Linked DNA regions of Homo sapiens: region 2 is linked to region 1. The links come from fine-mapping of genetic effects on gene expression. A gene starts in region 1. The other region holds a variant in brackets. All regions are shown on one strand. Distances are from middle to middle.

Region 1 (4,395 bases):
GAGACTGTTTTACTTCCAATTATGTGGTCAATTTTAGAATAAGTGCAGTGTGGTGATGAGAAGAATGTATATTCTGTTGATTTGGGGTGGAGAATTCTGTAGATGTCTAGTAGGTCTGCTTGATCCAGAGCTGAGTTCAGGTCCTCAATATCCTTGCTACTTTTCTGTCTCATTGATCTATCTAATATTGACAGTGGGGTGTTAAAGTCTTCCACTGTTATTGTATGGGAGTCTAAGTCTCTTTGTAGGTCTGTAAGAACTTGCTTTATGAATCTGGGTGCTCCTGTATTGGGTGCATATGTACTTAGGATGGGTAGCACTTCTTGTTGCATTGATCTCTTTACCATTATGTAATGCCCTTCTTTGTCTTTTTTGATCTTTGTTCATTTAAAGTCTATTTTATCAGAGACTAGGATTGCAACCCCTGCTTTTTTTTTCTTTCCATTTGCTTGGTAAATATTCCTCCCTCCCTTTATTTTGAGCCTATGTGTGTCTTGCACGTGAGATGGGTCTCCTGAGTGCAGCACACCGATGGGTCTTGACTGTTTATCCAATTTGCCAGTCTGTGTCTTTTAATTGGGGCATTTAGCCCATTTACATTTAGGGTTAATATTGTTATGTGTGAATTTGATCCTGTCATTATGATGCTAGCTGGTTATATTGCCCACTAGTTGATGCAGTTTCTTTATAGTGTCAATTGTCCTTACAACTGGGTATGTTTTTGCAGTGGCTGGTACTCATTTTTCCTTTCCATATTTAGTGCTTCCTTCAGGAGCTCTTGTTTAAGGCAGGCCTGGTGGTGACAAAATCTCTCAGCATTTGCTGGTCTGTAAAGGATTTTATTTCTCCTTCACTTATGAAGCTTAGTTTGGCTGGATATGAAATTCTGGGTTGAAAATTCTTTTCTTTAAGAATGTTGAATATTGGCCCCCACTGTCTTCTGGCTTGTGGGGTTTCTGCAGAGATATCTGCTTTTAGTCTGATGGGTTACCTTTGTGGGTAACCAGACCTTTCTCTCTGGTTGCCCTTAACATTTTTTCCTTCATTTTAACCTTAATGAATCTGATGATTCTGTGTCTTGGGGTTGCTTTTCTCGAGGAGTGTCTTTGTGGTGTTCTCTGTTTTTCCTGAATTTGAATGTTGGCCTGTCTTGCTAGCCTGGAGAAGTTCTCCTGGATAATATCCTAAAGAGTGTTTTTGGTACATACGTTTAAACAACCAGATCTCCTGAGAAATCACTCACTATTGGGAGGACAGTGCCAAGCCATTCATGAGGGAACCATGCCCATGATCCAAACATCTCCCACCATGCTTCACCTTCAACTCTGGGGATTATATTTGACCATGATATATGGAGGGGACAAACATACAAATTATATCAAAGGCATAGCATGGCTACTGTGAAAGGAGGGTAAAAACACAAAGATGACATCACCACTGACCTCAGGGAGTGCCCAGTAGACTGAGGGAGACAAGTACATATTTTCCTGAAGGAGGGCACTGGATTGATGGCATGTTTAGAATGTGGAAGTAGAGCGGCCACAGAAAGGCAGCCCGGCAGAGTGCTCGCACAAAGACTGGGCTAGAGACTCCCCACTGCATGTGATGTATCTGAGGAAAGTCATTAAAATAGGTGATGGTCACTTTCCATCAAGTCCCTGGTATGGTCCATGGAGGCAGGGTTGTCAATGTCATTTCGGCATTTCAGAGGCCTCTCAGGGTTTGGATATGGCAGAAGACAACCAGCAATGATTATGCATTGCAGAGATGCAGGTGAGCCCCAATTTCTTGCCAGCTGGGAAGTCGGTGCTAAGGGGCCTTGCTGTCTTTCCTTGGAACATAGGATACCAATTTCTTTCTGGACAGAGAGTATTTGGTTGGCTAAAGTTAAAATCTAAATTTTGCTTTGGGATGAATTCCAAAAATATTAGCTTTATTCAAATTTACTTTCACTTTATCTTTCTGAATCTTCAAGGTCCTAAAGCATTGCTTAGTAATTTTGTTTCTAAACTCACGTTACAGCACTGGGCATGATCTGTCCAAGGCAGAGACTATAAGCTACTCTTATAGTACTCTTATGAGATACATACAAGTAGGTATCTCAAAAAATGATACTCATGTATTCCTGTTCTTATGAGTAAATCATTGGCAGTGAGTGTGATTTTTTTTTTTTTTATGACAGGATAAATACACGCCCTCTATTGGGGTCAGGTTTTGTGCCTGTAGTTCTTCCGCCTACTGTATCATAGCAGCTTAGAATCCCAGCTGCTGGCTCGGGCTGCAGTTCTCTCATGGCTCGCACAGGGTGGACCAGCCCCATTCCCCTATGTGTTTCTCTGCTGCTGACCTGTGGCTTTGCTGAGGCAGGGAAGCTGCTGGTAGTGCCCATGGATGGGAGTCACTGGTTCACCATGCAGTCGGTGGTGGAGAAACTTATCCTCAGGGGGCATGAGGTGGTTGTAGTCATGCCAGAGGTGAGTTGGCAACTGGGAAAATCACTGAATTGCACAGTGAAGACTTACTCAACCTCATACACTCTGGAGGATCTGGACCGGGAATTCATGGATTTCGCCGATGCTCAATGGAAAGCACAAGTACGAAGTTTGTTTTCTCTATTTCTGAGTTCATCCAATGGTTTTTTTAACTTATTTTTTTCGCATTGCAGGAGTTTGTTTAATGACCGAAAATTAGTAGAATACTTAAAGGAGAGTTCTTTTGATGCGGTGTTTCTTGATCCTTTTGATGCCTGTGGCTTAATTGTTGCCAAATATTTCTCCCTCCCCTCTGTGGTCTTCGCCAGGGGAATAGCTTGCCACTATCTTGAAGAAGGTGCACAGTGCCCTGCTCCTCTTTCCTATGTCCCCAGAATTCTCTTAGGGTTCTCAGATGCCATGACTTTCAAGGAGAGAGTACGGAACCACATCATGCACTTGGAGGAACATTTATTTTGCCAGTATTTTTCCAAAAATGCCCTAGAAATAGCCTCTGAAATTCTCCAAACACCTGTCACAGCATATGATCTCTACAGCCACACATCAATTTGGTTGTTGCGAACAGACTTTGTTTTGGACTATCCCAAACCCGTGATGCCCAATATGATCTTCATTGGTGGTATCAACTGCCATCAGGGAAAGCCATTGCCTATGGTAAGTCACCTCTCCTTTAGCACATTAGGAATAATCTGGCTTTGGAAATTAAAAAAAGATTCCTTACTGAATTGTGATTTGACATTTTCATTTGTTGCATTTCAAATTTCTTTCCAGTTTAACAGATTATTTTGTGCCAATTTATGTACTCATCAGTTATCAAATTTTATAAAACTGCCCTTCTTGAAGGTGTGTGTATATAATTTAAAAATTGTAGATCGTATTCAGCTTACATTTTTGAGTACCATGTTTAGAAAAGTACCAAAAACCACAGTAAGAAATTGAACTTTCCTTTTTTGCTAATTCTATGTGACCCCCTAGAGCAAATGCTCTTAGCAGTTTTGCATACATTCTTTTCATTAAAAAAAGTATTTTAGGTGTATATATTTAATTTAAAAATTATAGATCATATTTAGCCCACGTTTTTGAGTACCGTGTTTAGAAAAGTACCAAAAACCACAGCAAGAAATGAAACTCCCCTTTTTCCTAAGTTTTCTGACCCCTAGAGGAAATGCTCTTATCAGTTTTGTGTATATTCTTTTCAGTATAAAAAAAGTTTCATTTATATGCAATATCTAATGTAAATTCTCATACCTATTTTGTTAAAATAAACTTTTATGCTGTGCTGGACATATTCTTCTTTACCTTGCATTTTTTATTTGCCAATAAATTGTAGATTCCTTTATACACCAATACAGACAGATTTGACAAGTTCTTTTCATAATTGCATAAAAGTCTTTACTTTGGATGCTATGTAGTTTTTTAAACCAATTAATATTGATATATGTTTAGGCATTTTCCATTTTTGCTTTTATGAATAAGGCTGTGTAAACATTCTTTAATAATTTCCTTGTGTGAATATATTTCTATATTCTTGCTTTTATCTTAGTAGACTAGAGTCCTACATGTAGGGTTAGAGGGTTTTCCTGAATTGAGAAGATTGGCATCTTTTTGCTATTATATCTTCCTGTTCAGGAATATGTGTGTCTCACTATTTATTCAGGTCTTGTTTTATATACATAAATAAAAATTTTCACTATATAAGCATTTATGTTTGTTATTAACATTTATTCCTTGGCATTTTATGATTTTTGAAACTATTTTTTTACAGGGTAATTTTTCCATTTCTACAATTAACTGACTATTGGTAATTAAAGTTTTGGTTTTTGCGTATGTATCTTGTATCCAGCCACATTACTAACTTTTCTTATTATTTTGTAGTATGCATTAGATGTACAATATGCAATAC
Region 2 (4,395 bases), 140 kb after region 1:
AGTCCTAGTATATCATTGACCAACCACATAACCCCAAGGTCTGTCCTCAGCCTTCAGAAGGAACATGCTTCTTACACCGATTTCAGCTCAGTGATATGGGATTCAAATGTATGACCTCCAAAATATTAAGAGAATAACGTGTGTTGTTTTAAGCCACCAAGTTTGGGTAATTTGTTACAGCCATGATAGGAAACGAATGCATCCACTTTGCCAGGTTTACCTGCTTTTATAAAGCCTGGGTTTAACCTTTTATCTAAATAATGGTCAACTCTTCCTACATCACGAGCATTTATGTGCAATTAAAAGCCATCATTAAATTAAGCCAGAGTATTAATATATTCATAGATTTCACCACCACACAGTAAAACATTGAAGTCAAATGATTTAGAGCAAACCACCTGGCTCACACTTTCCCAACGGAAAAAGGTAAGGCTCAAAGTGCTGAGATGAACATTCTGTCCTAGCACTAGGAAATAATCATTGTCTGCCTCAGGCTTAAGTTTAATAAATAGCAAATTGCATACAGATATTTACAATGATCGAAAGACAAACAGAGGTCCTATCCGTGCAGTCCCAACAATAAAGACAGGCATTGGCATAAAGTGTTTATAAATTCTTGGGTACAGCTGTTCTGAAAGTAAAGTTCACTTTCAATCCTAAAAAAAGTCCGCTATTCCTCCAGATGTGCTTAAAGGCAAATGTGGACTGGAATTACTTGGTGTCAATGGGGAGCAACTGCTCTATGCCGTTTATTATGAAGGACTTTAACTCAACTCTCCATCTTCCTCCACTTCCACCCTTTCTTGGCCATTCTCAATGATTCTCTTGGTGGTGATTTTTTTACCATCAACTATTTCAGTGGAAGTCGACATGGACTTGAAGCTGCCTGTCCCATCACTACCGTAGGACATGCAGAAGGAAGAAAGGCCCCCACTTCCCAGGGAGCCAAAGGAACGAAATCCTGTATCAAAAGAAGAAAAACCACCCTCAAAAGCTGGAAATTCACTGAAGGCAGAGAAAAGGGGTGCAGACCCTCTGCTTCTGCTTCCCAGGGAGTTCCTCTGACCCCCCAAAATATTCTCCAGCGGGTTTCCCAAGAGGTCAAAGGAGAATGGGTCCCGGCCGCCAAAGAACTCCCTGAAGACCTCGGCGGGGTCACGGAAGCTGAAGACCTACTCGAAGGGGTCCTTGAAGGGCCTGCCGCCTGCGCAGCCGCCCTCCGCCCTCGCCTCGCCATAGCGGTCATAGATATCGCGTTTCTACGCGTCCGACAACACCTCGTAGGCCTCAGCCACCTGCTTGAATCTTCTCACCGCTTCCTCCCTGTCCTCGGGGTTTTTGTCGGGGTGCCACTTGAGCGCCAGCTTGCGGTACGCCTTCTTGATACCCTCGGACGAGGCCTACCGGGGTACTCCCAGCACCTCGTAGTAGTCCACTATGCTGGACTGCCAAAGAGCCTGCGGGGCACTGGCACAGCGAGCGGCAAGGCTGCCAGCACCCGCGCACAGGTCAGAGGCTTGGCGACCTGGGCCGCCTGGAGGGCCGCCCCTTATGACGCAGCCACATCTCATTGGCCGAGGCCTGTGAGCGCCTCGCATCCCAAGATGCAGTGCTCCTGGGACTGGCCCTGCTCTCTGTGAGGCTCTGTGAGGCCCTGTGATGCTCCAAGACCAGGCCCCGCCCACTCCGGCCTCCAACCAGCCATGGTCTCCAAAAAGGATGGGAAAAAGAGGTTGGGGAAAAGAGAGGGCCTTGACTTTGGCTGCCTGAAGAACTGTTTTTCTTAAAGTAGGCTTTATATCAGTCTTTTTCCTCGGCCACAGGAGGGAAGAGGGTGGTGGGAGTGAGTTTAGTCTGACCGGGGCTGAAGACATCCTGTTGTTTAGGACTGCGGTTCTCCAACGTTCCAGCCCCGGTGCCCATTTGCTTTTGTTCATCTGGATTATGCCTATCATATGTACTGCATTAGAGATTAAAACAGAATTAAAAAGACATATTCATTGGGCAATTTAAGAAGAATAAACCCATGACACACTAACAAACCTTTTTATGTAACTTTTTTTGAGACAAAATGTAGTGAGAAGAGTGGCATCGTTTTACAGTTTTTGCATCTCTCTCTTTAGTACTTGGCTCTATAGAGAGGTGGATTCTCATGTCAGCTTCTGCATTCTATCTATTGTGATATTACACATCCCCCATGTAGCTTCTGGAAAACTCCACTGTACACTTGTGGGAGAATGACAATGAGAAAATCAAGTAACATTATTACGGAAATAGTTTTGACTTTGTAAAATTCTCCTGAAAAATTACTGGGGATCCCTAGGATTTCCTGGCTCATACTTTGAGAATCGCTAGTCTAGCAGAGTAGTCCCTGGTATTCTGAAGGGATTAGTTTAGGACAACC[C/G]TCCTTCCCCATACCAAAATCTAGATGCTCAAGCTCCTTTTATAAAATGACACAGTATTTGTATATAACCTACCCATATCCTCCTTTAAACCTCTAGTCATCTCTTGATTACTTTTACCTAATAAATGTAAATGCTATGTAAATAGTTGTTTTACAGTATTGGTTTTTTATTTGTATTATTTGTACTGTTTTTTTTTCATTGTTGTTCCCCCCAAATATTTTCAATCTGCTGTTGGCTGAATCTGCAGATGTGAAGCCCAAGTATATGGAGGGTCAAATGTGCATGTTATTCACTTTTCTTGACTGCTAAAACAACCAGGGAGATCCTCTCAGACAAAAGGAAATACAGCACTATTTACTGTATCGAAACCATTAAGACTTGCAGGCCGTGTGTATAGCACTGGGGATAAACATGGGATGCAGTGATTATTTCCGCTAGAACTGCTATATAATGACGATGAATTTTGGGGGGACTTTTTTTGAGATCTGAGTTCTCTTCACCTCCTCCTTATTCTCTTTTTGACACTGGATTCTTTGCTTTGATAAATTGTGGGGCAATACACTAGTAAAGGTCACTCAATTCCAAGGGGAAAATGATTAACCAAAGAACATTCTAACGGTTCATAAAGGGTATTAGGTGTAATGAGGATGTGTTATCTCACCAGAACAAACTTCTGAGTTTATATAACCTCTAGTTACATAACCTGAAACCCGGACTTGGCACTTGGTAAGCACGCAATGAACAGTCATAGTAAGCTGGCCAAGGGTAGAGTTCAGTTTGAACAAAGCAATTTGAGAACATCAAAGGAAGTTTGGGGAACAGCAAGGGATCCAGAATGGCTAGAGGGTAAGAGGCAGAGGGAGGGGGCAAGCAGAAGGGCTAGAGAGGAGGAATGAGCTTGGACAGGTGGGCTGGGGTCTATCCCAGAGTTTTGAGAGCAAGGCAGAGGACTCTGAATTTTCTGTGCCCAGGAAGCTGCTGACCAAGGTTCCAGAAGTGGTGGTGAGGTGGGGTTATTCAGGTGGCAGCCGATGCAATGATTCAGAAGGGACAGCTGGGGGTTGGGGGACAGGGGGGCTGGGGCCCTGAAATGGGACCATGACAGCTGGGTCTGAGAGACAGTGGTAGAAACATCCAGATTCAGCACTTACTTGCTGGCTTGGATGCAGGGTCTAGAACGAAAAGAGAAGAAAAGTCACTTCTATACAGAAACATGTCCAGAGCGCTTACTGTCTCCAAAACCATGGACTGGCACCTGAGTGATAGCATGATTCCAAAGCCAAAATCTTGCCTGTAAGGAATATATATATATATATATATATATATGTATATATGATATAGCTATAGTCTAATAGCAAGGACAGATATGCAAACTGCTAAAAGATACAAGGCAGAACAGAACAAAATGCTGTTTTTCTGGGATTTTGGAAATTCAAGGAATTCAAGGGATTCAAGGAAGGTGGCTTTGCTTCCCGGGAGGGTCCTGTAGATGATCTACAGGGCACTGGACATGTTTATGTTGCTCCTTTAGTAATAAGCCTGTCATTCTGATTTGATGAAAGGAGATGAAAGGAGCTGGTAGTGTGTCTGATGGTGGCCTACTAACTTATGTCTTCAGCTTAAAAAGAAAGTAGCTTCAAAAGGGTTCCAGAAACACTTTCCATGGACGTGTCACTCTTTAGCAGCCCCCAAAGCAAGACCATCATATTGCTGCCCTGCTGTGTGATTTCTCAGCCCCTAGAGCACCATCCCCTGTAATTGCCTGGTCATGAGTTTGTCTCTGTCTACCTGACCCCTCCTTTCAGGCAAGGACCATTTCTAACTTGACTTTCTGGGCCTAGTTCCTAGCATAGTGACTGCCATCCAGTAGGGCTCACACGTTCCATAAATATTTGGCAGATGAGGGAATTAGCAATGGGTTCTGCTTTGGTTTCAGAGCAGATATTAATTGGATTGCTTAGTAGTGGTTCTCTGTTGTAATTCATGAGCA

Alleles and levels. Positions count from the first base shown, and alleles are read on the strand shown. Sizes are in standard deviations (SD) of each study's normalised expression.
As copies of G replace C in region 2, the expression in transverse colon of the gene that starts at base 2,217 in region 1 goes up (small effect, 0.36 SD a copy in GTEx).

What was found. PIP is the estimated chance that this variant, and not a neighbour inherited with it, causes the effect. A credible set is the group of variants that fine-mapping cannot tell apart.
Region 2: its variant is the best candidate, but not a certain one, in a credible set for the expression of UGT1A8 in transverse colon (GTEx, PIP 0.53).

What each region holds. Positions count from the first base shown.
Region 1 is chr2:233,615,417-233,619,811 of GRCh38, forward strand. UGT1A8 (UDP glucuronosyltransferase family 1 member A8) reads left to right here and starts at 2,217. Exons shown (of 5, transcript NM_019076.5): 1 at 2,217-3,146. The coding sequence starts at 2,292. It also overlaps UGT1A.
Region 2 is chr2:233,753,831-233,758,225 of GRCh38, forward strand. The region is part of intron 1 of UGT1A8 (UDP glucuronosyltransferase family 1 member A8); the gene reads left to right. The region is part of intron 1 of UGT1A10 (UDP glucuronosyltransferase family 1 member A10); the gene reads left to right. The region is part of intron 1 of UGT1A9 (UDP glucuronosyltransferase family 1 member A9); the gene reads left to right. All of the region lies in intron 1 of UGT1A7 (UDP glucuronosyltransferase family 1 member A7), which reads left to right. It also overlaps UGT1A6, UGT1A5, UGT1A4, UGT1A3, UGT1A and the pseudogene LOC100286922. Among named protein-coding and RNA genes, the nearest start is that of UGT1A1, 4.2 kb to the right of the region's middle. The variant C/G (reference allele first, on the strand shown) is at 2,405.